Homo sapiens: one gene and its partner. The protein of the gene in region 1 purifies or fractionates together with the protein of each later gene. This does not show direct contact. Each region holds a gene or a part of one and is shown in the gene's direction. Other genes may lie near its edges.

What was found.
Region 2: the proteins of TPST2 (region 1) and HEATR3 purify together in Homo sapiens (co-immunoprecipitation; 2 studies listed by BioGRID and IntAct, with this or other methods). This does not show direct contact.

What each region holds. Positions count from the first base shown.
Region 1 is NC_000022.11:26,587,107-26,594,161, reverse strand, and holds the start of TPST2 (protein-tyrosine sulfotransferase 2), read left to right. Parts: upstream 1-4,029; 5' UTR 4,030-4,109; intron 4,110-7,055. UniProt on the Homo sapiens protein: Catalyzes the O-sulfation of tyrosine residues within acidic motifs of polypeptides, using 3'-phosphoadenylyl sulfate (PAPS) as cosubstrate.
Region 2 is NC_000016.10:50,096,943-50,103,969, forward strand, and holds part of HEATR3 (HEAT repeat-containing protein 3), read left to right. Parts: intron 1-3,287; coding exon 3,288-3,431; intron 3,432-5,316; coding exon 5,317-5,493; intron 5,494-7,027. UniProt on the Homo sapiens protein: Plays a role in ribosome biogenesis and in nuclear import of the 60S ribosomal protein L5/large ribosomal subunit protein uL18 (RPL5). Required for proper erythrocyte maturation.

The sequences.
Region 1 (7,055 bases):
GGATCCCCAGCTAGGAACAATAATACTACACCCTTCCAGCAGGAGAAGAAAACCTGCCCACTTACTTTTACTTCCTGCCCACTGCCGAGCCACTGCCTTCTATCAGTGTACTAGAAAGGGTGAGAGAGACCTGAGTTTGCATTCCAGCTCTGACAATTACCAGCTATTATCCTTGGCCAAATCAAATTACCTGCTGGAGCCTCTGTTTCCACATCTGTAAAATGGGAGTAATGATAATAAAACACCAAAAGCTTGGAGAGGGTAAATGATCAGCTTGAATATAATAATTATAAGGTGTTTAGCACATAGCAAGCACCTGAATAAAGTGTTTTCTGTGGTTGGGCATGGTGGCTCACACTTGTAATCCCAGCACTTTGGGAGTCCAAGACAGGTGGATCACTTGAGGTCAGGAGTTGGAGACGAGCCTGGCCAACATGAAGAAATCCCATCTCTACTCCAAATACAAAAATTAGCCAGGCATATTGGCGCATGCTTGTAATCCCAGATACTCAATAGGCTGAAGCAGGAGGACTGCTTGGACCCAGGAGGCGGAGGTTGCAGTGAGCCGAGATCACACCACTGTACTCCAGCCTGGGCAACAGAGTGAGACTCTGTCTCAAAGAAATAAATAAATAAAATAAAAATAAATAAAATGGTTTTTAAAAAAATTTTAATTAAAAAAAAAAAGTAGAGACAAGGTCTCACCATGTTGCCCAGGCTGGTCTCAATCTCCTGGGTTCAAGCTATCCTCCCTCTTCAGCCTCCCACAGTGCTGGAATTACAGGAGTGAGCCATTGAGCCTGGCCTAAAGTGTAATTATTGACATAACATCAACCTCATCCTCTTGAATGTCAGAGCTGGAAAGAATTTTTGGATCAATGTGTATTATGCTACATCTATTCTTCCTGCTTTTGATAAATATTCTTCCTGCTTTTGATAAAACCTCTTAAGTACTGGGTTTTGCCTAGATGCTGGGAAGATAGGTTGGGGAGGAAGACAGAAGAGGTATCTGCTCTAGGTGTTCCCGGCTGAAGATGCAGACAGGAGGAATGAATTATTTTGTCTGCCTTCAAAGTCACATCAAATTCCTGGGCTGCACAGTCTGGTGTCTGGTCCACCACGATGTCCTGAGGGGCAATTAGCCTTCCTCAAGGAGGTGACAGACAGATTGAGACCTGGAAAGGTTCACTGAGCTAGGGGTACTGAGAGAAGTCCCAACCTAGACAACAAGACGATCATTCTGATCCTCCTCCTTAGCCTCTCAACTGAGATCTGCCAATTCTGTCTTCCAAACCTCTCCGGAACCAAAACACCCCCTCCATGCCCACATCCCCTCTCTGGGTTCCTGAATTATTTCAACACCCTCCAAACCAGTTTCTGCCTGTTTCTTCTTCACACAGCACCAGAGGGATCTTTGCAGAAAGTCAGGCTCCCCATGCCCTTCCCCTGTTGAACACCTTCCCTGTCTCTCCATCACTGCAAGAGAAAAGCCCCGACTCCTTCCCACAGCCCACAAAGCTCTGCAGCATCCAGCCCTGCAGACACCTCTGATCTCTTCTCTCACCTCCACCACATCCTGTCCACTCTGCACTTCATGCAAGGCCCCAGGCTCGCTTCCTTCCTGCTAGGCCTTTGCACCTGCTAGATTCTGTGACCAGTGCACTCTTCCAAGGATCCCCACCCATGCCTCTGGCATGTATACACACGCCTGGCCCTCCCTCCCTGGACCAGGTTAATCTCTGCTGCTCCTGCCTCATCAGTTACAGGTGCTCACTTTACTGTGAAGGCTTGTTGAAGGATCTAGCTTCCCCAACTTGGACCTTTGTCCCCCTGTTAGCTGCTGAATCTGTGCCTAGCATAGAGAGCTCAGGAAATGCCATTGCTAGAATGTTATTAAACAAATGCCCCCATTCACACCTCTTCCTCTGAACTCCATTTTTTTCATCCACAAAAGGACATTATAAAACACCCTGCTGGTGTTTAATCTATGTGTCTATCAAATCAGTCATATGAAGTCTCTAACATGCACGCAATAAACACTATGTAATGTTGTTGTATTGTTTCCAGACCAGTAATGGCTGGCTCCATGGAGGCAGCTTTATCAGTCCCAGCATTTTCCATAAGGCAAGCACTAACTATTTATTGGACACATGAATGAATTAATGAATGACCAATGAATGAACATGTGGCTGGCCATGGGCAAATTACTTAATATCTGTGTGCCCTAGTTTCTGTGTGTGTGTGTGTGTGTGTGTGTGTGTGTGTGTGTGTACTCACCCAGGATGGAGTGCAGTGGTGCGATCTACACTCACTGTAACCTCTGCCTCCTGGGTTCAAGCAATTCTCGTGCCTCAGCCTCCCAAGTAGGGGGAATTACAGGTGAGCAGCACCATGCCCTGCTCATTTTTTTTTTTTTTTTTTGAGACGGAGTCTCACTCTGTCGCCCAGGTGGGAGTGCAGTGGTGCGATCTTGGCTCACTGCAACCTCCACCTCCTGGGTTCAAGCGATTCTTCTGCCTCAGCCTCCTGAGTAGCTGGGACTACAGGCATGCACCACCATGCCCAGCTAATTTTTGTATTTTTAGTAGAAACAGGGTTTCACCATATTGGTCAGGCTGGTCTTGGATTCCTGACCTGGTGATCCACCCGCATCGGCCTCCCAAAGTGCTGGGATTGCATTTTTTTTTTTTTTTTTGAGACAGAGTCTCACTTGTTGCCCAGGCTGGAGTGCAGTGCAATCTCAGCTCACTGCAACCCTTGCCTCCCAGGTTCAAGCGATTCTCCTGTCTCAGCCTCCTGAGTAGCTGGGACTACAGGCATGTACCACCACACCCGGCTAATTTTTGTATTTTTAGTAGAGACAGGGTTTCGCCATGTTGGCCTGGCTGGTCTCGAACTCCTGACCTCATGTGATCCACCCACCTTGGCCTCCCAAAGTCATTTTCGTATTTTTATTAGAAACGAGGTTTCACCATTTTGGCCAGGCTGGTCTTGAACTCCTAGCCTCAAGTGATCCGCCCGCCTCGCCTCCCAAAGTGCTAGAATCACAGGTGTGAGCCATGCACCTGACCCAGAAATTTATTTTAAACAGATAATATATACATATGGCAAATAGAAAGTTAAAAGAGAACAAAGAACCAAAGTTCACAATGAAAAGTAAGCCTGCATGCCTACCCTACCTTTTCTTCAGGTATTCAATGCACAAGCATACGATGCATAGATAGCTCTATTATTTTTCCAATTTTACACATGAAGAAGCAGAAGCACTGAAAGGTTATAGAACTTAGACTGTGCTAAGATTTATCAGTCAGGAGTTTTGTTTCATTTGTGTATATCAGGGCTTCACAACCTTTACGCTATTCGGCATTTTTTGCAGGGTTTTTTTTGGGGGGGTAGTGGCAGGGCTGGGGGTGGAAAGGGTGTCCTATGCACCGCAGAATGTTTAGCAGCATTCCAGGCCTCTACTCACTAGATGCCAGTATCGCCTCTCCACTTCCCCAGTTATGACAACCAAAAATGTCTTCAGAGATTGCCAAATGTCGTGGTGGTGGAGGGATGTCAGGGCAAAATCCCTGATAAATGGAGAGAATGTGGTATATCCACAAAAACTCCCTCCAAAACCACTGGTGTGTATGACTATACATCAGACCACCCCTTTCTTTTTTCTGTGTTTTACACAAACAGTAGCACGAATACACCCCGCTGCGGGTCTACTTTTCTTTTCTTACACCACTTTTTGGTGATCATTCCACTTCATTGCTTACAGGCAGAAAGGAACTTCTCTTAAACAGAACTGACCGGGAGAAGTGGTGAGCTGCCCGTCCTAGGGGTAAGCCAGCGAGCAGACAGGGGCTTCCAGGGCGGCGGGGCGGGGTTCCCGGGGCGAGCCTCCGGGAAACTTCCCGACCAGCCTCTGCTCACCTCGCGGTCCCGAGGCGCAGTGGAGGGGATGGGGCGGGGCGGGGCGGGGCCGCGTATCGGGCCCGCCCCCGTACGTCACGTCGCCGCGGCCCCGCCCCCGCGCGGGCACCTCCCCCTTCCCCGGCTGGGGCGGCTGGAGAGCCGGGAGTCGCTGGGTGCGTGGGGCTGCCTCGCCGCGTCTCGCCACGGTAGGTGGCCCTGGGGCGGCAGGGGGTGGCCTCGGGTTGCAACCGGGGGCGCGGGCTGGGGGCCGTGCGGGTCGGCCTCGGGCGCCTGGCAGCCCTCCGTCCTGGCGGCTGCCTCCGGGCCCGGCGCGACTGCTCGGGCTCCGGGGCTGGGAGCTGGGATCTGGGAGGCAGGCAGGCGGCGCGGGCGCGCGGTTCTGGGATCCGCACCCGCTCGGCGTCCCGAGCGCTTTCCGCGGGGTGCGGCATCCACCGGGCCCCCGTTACCACGCTTCCCGCTTCGGACCCAGCGCCTGGGAGACGCTCAGCGTCTGTTGGCGGGGGGACTGGGGGGGAGGGCGGCGCGTCCCCGCCTCCGGAGTCCCCAACCTCGCCCAGGCGCGCGGGGACCCCCAGGCGGGCGCCAGGGCGCGTGGAAGTTAACTTGCAGCAGCCGTGGAGTTGCGAGGAGCGTCAGAAGTGGAGGCGTTGGGGGCGGAAATCGTCGGCTGGGGAGGTGGGCGCTGGGAGCACTGGGTTGGGGAGCCCTAGTGAACTTGGAGGTCACTGGTGAGGAGTGGAGAGGAATTTGACCCGAGGATCCCACCCCAACCCCCAACCTCCCTCCGTAAACTCCGCTTCTCGGTGTGAGCTGGATGGGAGGTGCCCGGAAAGCCGGGACTGGGACTGGTAGCAGGGGACTGGGAGCATGGGCTCAGAGGCTGAGCACGCCTGACCTGGCAGAGTCGTTGTTAGATGGGACAGAGGTCGAGGTCTGGCATTCCCACTCAAAGGCCCGTTCCCTAGGGAAGGAACCATCCACCTCAGCAGAGTCATTAGAAAGAACCGTGCCTAACCTCTTGCCCCCTTCCCCTTTTACAGATGGGGAGACTGAGGCTTGGAGAGGTCACCTGCCCGTGACCCTAGGATTCACAGCTAGGATGTGGCAGAGCTGAAACTCACTCACAGGCCTCCTGACTTAATGTCCTTGGGGATGTTGAGGAGGCGGGCTGTTGAACTCCTACTTATCCTACAGAAGCCCCCTCAAGCAGCACCTCCTCCGGGAAGCCTTCCCTGGCATTCTCCTGGTATTGTTGGGTGCTTCCTGTTTTGAACCCCACAGAGTTAGCCAGCCCTTTTTCTCACTTCCCAACAGACATTCCCTTGCATGTCTGTCTGCCAGACTGGGCTGTGGGTGGACACCTCTCCCTAGCCTCCATGTGATAACCCTTTCATCTCAGCAGGGTGGTCTGCTGGCGAGGGTAGGCTTCTGGATTTGAACAGATCTGTGACACACCGGATTTAGTAGTGATGTGGCCCGGGCGACGCATTTTCCTTCCGATCTAGTCTCAGTTTCCATAACTGTAAAGCTGGGTTTATTTCATTGTCCTAAAGGAACTGTTGGGTCATTTCTGAATCCCCCCACCCCACTGAACCCCAATTGTACTGTTGTTTACTTAATATACATCTTTGTATCACCTGATTTTTAAAAATCTCATGCAAACTTTTTTTATAACAGCTTTGTTGAGATACAGTTCACATGCCGTACAATTCACCCTTTTAAAGTATATGTTTCCGTAATTTTTAGGATGTTCAGAGTTGCATAGTCATCACCACTGTCTAATTTTAGAACATTTTTATCATGCCCAAAAGAAAGGCTGTTTCATGGTCACTCCCCAATCCTTTCTTCCCCTATCCCTTGGCAACCACTTACTGACTCTCAAATTCTCTATGAATTTGCCTGTGCTGGACATTTCATATAAATGCAGTCATATACTATGTGGCCTTTGGTATCTGATGCTTTTCACTTCAGAGAATGTTTCTAAGGTTCAGCCCCTTGCAGCCTGTATCAGTACTTCATTCCTTTTTTTTTTTTTAAGTACTTCGTTCCTTTTTATGGCTGCATAATATTCTATTATGTGGATATACCACATTCTATCCATTTGTCAGCTGATGGATGTTTGGGTTGTTTCTAACTTTTGACTATTATGAATAATACTGCTATGAACATTCATGTACAGGTCTTTGGACATACATTTTCAGTTCTCTCAGGTATATTTCTAGGAGTGGAATGATTGGGTCGTAAGGTAACTTTAGGTTTCACCTTTAAATATTTTTTTAATTTATTTTATTATTTATTTATTTTGTAGAGATAGGGGTCCCACTATGTTGCCCAGGCTGGTCTTGAACTCCTGGTCTCAAGCGATCCTCCTACCTCAGGCTCCCAAAGTGCTGGGATTATAGGTGTGAGCCACTGCACCCAGGTTTAACCTGTTGAGGACCTGCCAGACTATTTTTCCAGAACAGCTGTACCATTTTATATTCCTACCACCAGTGTATGAGGGTTCCAATAATCTTAAATACATTTAGTGTTCTCTGAAGCAGTCATAACCCTTGAAATCACTGGCTTTGATGTGTTAGTTGTAAACTATTTTCAGGCCGGGCACGGAGGCTCACACCTGTAATCCCAGCACTTTGGGAGCTAAGGTGGGCAGGTCACCTGAGGTCAGGAGTTCGAGACCAGCCTATCCAATATGGTGAAACCCCGTCTCTACTAAAAATACAAAAATTAGCCAGGTGTGGTGGTGCGTGCCTGTAACCCCAGCTACTTGGGAGGCTGAGGCAGGGGAATCGCTTGAACCCAGGAGGCAGAGGTTGCAGTAAGCCAAGATCAATCACACCACTGCACTCCGGTCTAAGTGACAGAGCAAGACTCTGTGAAAATACCGAAGCAAGGAGAGGCAGTGTAGGACCCAGTGGCTTACAGAGCCCACCCCAGGAGCTGGCACACAGTATTAGGAGGGGGTGAAAGGAAGGTGGAAGCTGCTCGGATCTTCCCATCCCGGGCCAGCCTGGAGCCCCCTTGCCAGCTGAGGCTTTGTGGAGGCCAGGGAGACCCTCCATGGCTCTCCTAGACCATAACTGAAGGGGAAGACTTGTCCCTTGACCCCAAAATTAAGTCTGGTCCTG
Region 2 (7,027 bases), on another chromosome or scaffold:
TTTTCTGCACTGGCAGATTTGGCCAACTCATCATGATGGCATCGTTCAGCATTCCTCTGTCCCCCATGTTTCCTGTGAGCCGGGAGCTAGGTCTAGAGCCTTAATTAGATCCAGGTCCAGATTATTTATTTATTTATTTTTTGTATTTATAATAAATAATCTAGACAGGTCCAGATTTTTTGGCAAGAATAATTTATAGTGCTTTATATATTTCCTATATTTATATCACAAATCATATGATATTATAAAATAGTGATGCTGAGATTAATTAGTGGGTTCACATAATGGTTTTATAACCAGTGATTGTGGTTGCCTGGCTCCATTATGTCATTAGTGGGTTGCAGAATAGAGATACCCTAATTTTGTCTTTTCTTTTTTTTTTTTTTACATTTATTAGCTATGATTTTTTTTTTTTTCAGAATAGCTATCCTAGCAATCTCTATAAGTGACCAGTGATTTTTTTTTTTTTAGTATCATTTTGAACTCAGGGTTTTTTATATATTTGTATTTCATTCCATTATAGTCATGCTTTTTGCTGCCAAATTCATCCCATCTTTGGATAGTAGGAGTCCCTTCAAATTGGCTCCTGTGCCTCTTTTACAAGAATTTTAGGTTTTTGATCACTTTTGCTTCCAGGCATAGGATGTCCCAGGTTCAATTTGTAATTTTCTTGCTTAAAACCTGGAATCTGGCCAGGCACAGTGGCTCATGCCTGTAATCCCAACACTTTAGGAGGCTGAGGTGGGCGGATCACTTGAGGTCAGGAGTTTGAGACCAGCCTGACCCACATGGCGAAACTCCGTCTCTACTGAAAATTCAAAAATTAGCTGGGTGTGGTGGCACGCGCCTGTAATCCCAGCTACTTGGGAGGCTGAGGCAGGAGAATCGCTTGAAGCCAGGAGGTGGAGGTTGCAGTGAGCCAAGATTGCACTGCACTCCAGCCTGGGTGACAAGAGTGTGACAAGAGTGAAACTCCGTCTCAAAAAAAAAAAAAAAAAACCCTGGAATTAGTTACTTCTCCAAGAAGCTCTGATTTCTTTAGTGGGGAAAGTGAATTGTGGAGTGCTTATTGCTATCATGTTGCCATTGTTTCTAGGTCTTTTTAGTGGAAATAGCTAGGAAATAGGCATTTTTTTAGGAGACAAAAATAGTAAGTTTATCCTGATAATTTCCAGTTTAAATAAAAAATGGTACAATATTTTTACTTAATTTTCGATTTTGTATTTCTATCTTTTTGTATCCCCCAAAAAGATACATTTGTACCCAAAAAGGTACATTGTACCCAAAAAGATACATTAGTGACATTAAAATTCTTATTTGCAGCTGGTCTGATGGTAGTGGGTTATCAGGACTTATTAACATTAGTGTCACTGAAGTTGGTATACAACCCCCCACGCTAAGTTTGACTGGCTTTAAAAATAATAATAAATAGGTCGGGCACGGTGGCTCACGCCTGTAATCCCAGCAGTTTTGGAGGCCGAGGTGGGCGGATCACAAGGTCAGGAGATCAAGACCATCCTGGCTAACACAGTGAAACCCCGTCTCTATTAAAAAATACAAAAAATTAGCCGGGTGTGGTGGCGGGTGCCTGTAGTTCTGGCTACTCAGGAGACTGAGGCAGAAGAATGGTGTGAACCCAGGAGGCGGAGCTTGCAGTGAGCCAAGATCGGGCCACTGTAATCCAGCCTGGGCGACAGAGCGATACTCCGTTTCAAAAATAATAATAATAATAAATAATTTAAAAATTAAAATTAGAGAAAAGAAAGAAAAATATTTTTCAAAAATTTTATTATTTGCTTTCTCCTACAGAATGTACTTTGTAGTAGTGACATTAAAAGACATTAAAATTATTTGCTATACAGTGATATTAAAATTGTTTGCTGTAGTAACATTAAAATTGTAGTGACATTAAAACTATTATTTGCTTTATCCTACGGAATGTACTTAATAGTATCAAAATAACAATGCTCTTGTTATTGCCAATAACACTATTTCTTTTTGCTTCTTTATATAATTTTTTTCTTAATGCTTTTAAAATTTTTTTATACTTTATTTTTATTTTTTAGTTTTTTAATAGAGATGAGGTCTTGCTATGTTGCCCAGCCTGGTCTTAAACTCCTGCTCTCGAGTGATCCTCTTGCCTCAGCTTTCCAAAGCTAAGAATTTTTTTGAAGAGCATAATTTGACCCTCAGTTTCTAAGAAGTAGGAATGGTAATGGGATGCATAGCCTGCCATGTGGCTGTTGGATGGACCAGAAAACCTTATACTCTAGGGCCTATAGGAATATCAAGTATTTTTATTGATTTCCCCTGGTATGTAAGCAGCAGCTTATGGGATCAGTGTGATGGTTAAGGAAAATTACTCAAAGCCCATGTTCAGGGCCAGGTGCAGTGGCTCATACTAATAATCCTAACACTTTGGGAGCCTGAGGCGGGAGGATTGCTTGAGCCCAAGAGTTCAAGAACAGCCTGGGCAACTTTGTGAGACTTCATGTCTACAAAAAATAAAAATACATTAGTCTAGTGTAGGGGCTCACACGAGTGATAAGTAGTGAAGCTAGGATTTGAACCCAGGGTTCAATCTCCAGATTCCAAGCCTTTGTGTCTGGCTCCAGATTCCAAGCCTTTCATCACTACACTGTGCTGCTGCTTATAGGAGATAGTCTCACTCTGTTGCCCAGGCTAGAGTTCAGTGGCACAATCTCAGCTCACTGCAACCTCTGTCTCCCAGGTTCAAGCGTTTCTTGTGCCTCAGCCTCCTGAGTAGCTGAGATTGCAGGCGTGAGCCACCGCGCCCAGCCTTAAACTGAAAATTATCCACTACATGGTAGAAGCACCATATAATGTAATGGTTTCTACAGTCTTTAATTATGATAATACAGATATCTCAAAGTAAGTTCTTACCTTGTATAGACTCAGCCAATTTTTTTAAAACCACACAATCCTATTTATACTTTCAAAGCCTTTTTCTTACCATTAATATTAAAAAGGAATTGGACTCTCTTTAGTGTGTGTACATCTGGAATGAAAGTCTTCATCAAATTAAATGGAGCCCCTTTGATATTAGATAACAGTGCCGACATGAGCAGGGTTCACCTTAGTTCAGAATTACCAGCTCTGTCTGGGAGAACTGGAATACATATTAATAGTAACTTACCTGCCAGGAGTTTATGTCACTCTTAAAATCCTGTAGCCTATAGAGGAGATTCCTGTCAGTCCGGTTTTCACATGCTGATAGAATTAATTGAGTTTAACATTATAAATACTGTCCTCTTCTCTTTTAACAGTGCATGACTCCTGATCAGCTGATGACATTATGCAAAGCAGGCATTCATAGTAGTAATGTCGGGGTTAGAGTGAATGTCGTTAGCATTTTAGGAATCACTGGCAGCGTCCTTGCCAAAGAAGATGGTACACTTGAAACTCTTAAGGTAAAACAATTTGCTTCTGACCTAACATGTTAAATAATTAGAAATGGGAGAAGAACTGTTGGTGTAGGATTTCTTAAAACTTGTGTGGACTTGAAGAGAAGAAGTCATATCAAGTTGCTTTATTGAGTCATATTATTAGAATATACCCTTTGGCTTGATCTAACTATGTGTATTAATTAGGTAAGTATTTGAAAAGTTGAGCCACATTTTACAATTTAACGTTATTCCAGAGGTACTTTTTTAAAAAAATAAATCTGTCTTTAGTGAAAGGGCAAATTCAGAATTTTTAAAGATGCCTTCTGCCTTTGCTGTTGCATCCAATGTATGCATGTTACATTCTCCTGCTGATGAATGAACAATCCACACCATTTTCCTTGCACACCAGGCAACATGCATTCTGAAAAATACAACACAGTTAATTAATTCTAATACCACTCCATAAATTTTAAGCAGCAACCCTGGTAGTGCCAATATACTAGCAATTCCCTCAGCATATTTGCTCTTACCACTTAGCACAGTTGCTCACAAACTGCACTGTTAGGAGTACAGCGTCACTAGTAATTAAAAGGACAGTCATAGTAACATTACACTTTGGTGTGCTAATAATTGCTGAAGTGTGAGACTAGTGGATAATAAACTCATTATTATAAAGTACCTCTTAACCTGCTAAGAACTTTACAATGATGACTGATGTTTTTAAGAATCTATTTTTGAAAAATGATACTTGCAAAGCTTTTTTTTTTTTCTTTTTTTTTCTGAGATGGAGTCTCAGTCACCCAGGCTGGAGTACAGTAGTGCAGTAGTGTGATCTCGGCTCACTGCAACCTCCGCCTCTGGGTTCAAGCAATTCTTCTGCCTCAGCCTCCCGAGTAGCTGGGATTACAGGTGCCCACTACCACACCTGGCTAATTTTTGTATTTTTAATAGAGATGGGGTTTCGCCATGTTGGCCAAGCTGGTCTTGAACTCCTGGGCTCAAGCGATCTACCTACTTCAGCATCCCAGAGTGCTGGGATTACAGGCATGAGCCACTGCACCCGGCAACAGTTATTTCTTAGTGTGTCTAATTCCTGGTCCATATTCATAATTTTACAGTTGCCTCAAAATTATCTGTTTACAGAGAGCTTGTTTACACTGCTGAAGTCCACATGTTATGTTTCCTGTGGGGTCTTCTCTTTCTCTCTTAATCTTGAACAGTTCCTCCCCGGCACCACGTGGTTATTCTCACCTCCTGGATCAGTTGTCCAATATAGTGTCCAAAACCTTCTGGATTTGTCTGATTGCTACCTTGTGGTGGTAAATTTGTTTTTTTATCCTTGTATTTCCTACAAACTGACAGTTAGATCTACAGACTAGATTCGATTCAGATCAGTCCTATTTTACGTTTTTTAGAGATGAGGTCTTGCTCCATTGCCGAGGCTGGTCTTGAACTCCTGGGCTCGAGCGACCCTCCCGCCTTAGCCTCACAAAGTTCTGAACTTACAGGTGTGAGCCACTTGCAACTGGCCTAAAGTGTTTTTCTTATGCTTTTAAAAGCAGATTTTTTGTTGTTGTCGTTGTTGTTACAGATAATATTTCTATGCATCTTGACATCATGGAGAAATCCTTTTTGAGAGAGGTAGAGGGGAAAATTTAGTGATTTCCAAAATCATACATCATTTATGGATTTTAATTCACTTTATTTATGAATATAAACTATAATATGTTTAATTTATCTTGCTTATACTTGGTATGTTTATAAGTATTTAAGTCTAATCTCTTGAAGTTTTAATTTTTCCCTGGCATTTGTATATAAAATAGTATGCATGAGTTATTGCCACATTCAAAGTTGGTACTTGTTTTGGAGACTGGTGTTAGTCATACTAAATGTGTTTTGTTGTTTCCAGAACATTGGGTGCTTTCTGCTTGAAGTTACCACCAAAGATCCTTCCCTTGTGGTAGCAGGAGAAGCTTTGGATGCCCTCTTTGATGTTTTTGCAGATGGTAAAGAAGCCGAAAGAGCCTCGATTCAAATTAAATTATTATCTGCTCTGAAAGAATTCCAGCCGGTCTTTAAAATGAAGGTTTGTAGCCATTTAACTTATAAATACATAAGTCTGAACATTCTGTGGGGACAAGGGTGTGTGTAGTTACCGCTGTGCAACTCAGAAGCATGTGCATGACGAATCCCCATATGTAGCACAGCATCCCCAGTACTTTGTAAAATGTTCGTTGACTGAGTCATAGCTCAACAGTGTGACTACTGAATCATTGAAACTGAAGCTAAAATGGTATCTGACAAGTTCTTCTTTTTTTAAGTTTAGTAATTTTGACAATGCTTCATATATGTCAGTATTATACTCTGTATTTTGCAAAGCACTTTCATACACATTTTGCATTTATTTAATTTTACTTTTTTTTGTTTTTTTGAGACAGAATCTCACTCTGTCGCCCATGCTGGAGTGCAGTGGTGCGATCTTGGCTCACTGCGACCTCCCCTTCCCCAGTTCAAGTGATTCTTGTGCCTCAGCCTCCCAAGTAGCTGGGATTACAGGTGTCCACCACATCACCCAAATAATTTTTGTATTTTTAGTAGAAACGGGGATTCGCCTTGTCATCCAGGCTGGTCTCGAACTCCCAACCTCAGGTGATCTGCCCACCTTGGCCTCCCAAAGTGCTGGGATTACAGGTGTGAGCCACTGTGCCCAGCCATATTGTTCTTAAAGGTTACAGTCCTTTAAATTTCTGGATAAAGAGCTTGCAAGATAAGAAAAAAATATCCCCTATTTCCCTGCAGCTTCAAGGAAAGCAGATATATTAATAGTTAGAGTCATCAAACTCTGCAGAAGCAGGTGCTTAAAAAAGGTTAAACAGTGAACTGGGAAAATAACCCCTGACTTCTGAAAGGTCTTTGTTCTGATTGATTTTCCTACTCAGTATGTATTGCTGTGGTAATAACATTTGTTTTTCTTTTATCAAAGGTATAAAGCTCTAATGAGATTTCTTCCTAGCCAGAGGCTAGCCTGTAGTTATTTATGTGAAACTCTTTTTTTTGCTAAATGAAGCCACAATTTGTGTTAAAGGCTATTCAGTGTATATTTAGCTGCAAAATGCATTTATGTACAATCAAGAACTTCTCTTGAGCAGTGTTTCTCAAAAGTGCCCTCCTTGTATCAGCAGCATCAGCCCTTGCCTGATAACTTATTCAAAATGCAGGTCCTCGGCCCCAACTCCTGACCTACTGAGTCATAGACTCTGTGGATGGGCCCACCAGTCTATTTTTCAACAAGCCTTCCAGATGATACCGTTGCACACTAAAACCTGAGAGCCACTGCTCTAGACTAGAGGTGAGATCAAACTCAGATTCCATACAATTGATATAAAAAACCACAGGCCAGGCGCAGTGGCTCACACCTGTAATCCCAGCACTTTGGGAGCCCCAGGTGGGAGGATCACTCGAGTCCAGGATTTCAAGACCAGCCTGGGAAACATAGCAAGAACTTGTCTCTACAAAAAAATTTTTTTAAGTTAGCCATTAAGTGGTGGCTCATGCCTGTCATCCCAGCTACTCAGGAAGCTGAGCAGGAGGATCGTGTGAGTGCAGGAGTTGGAGGCTAC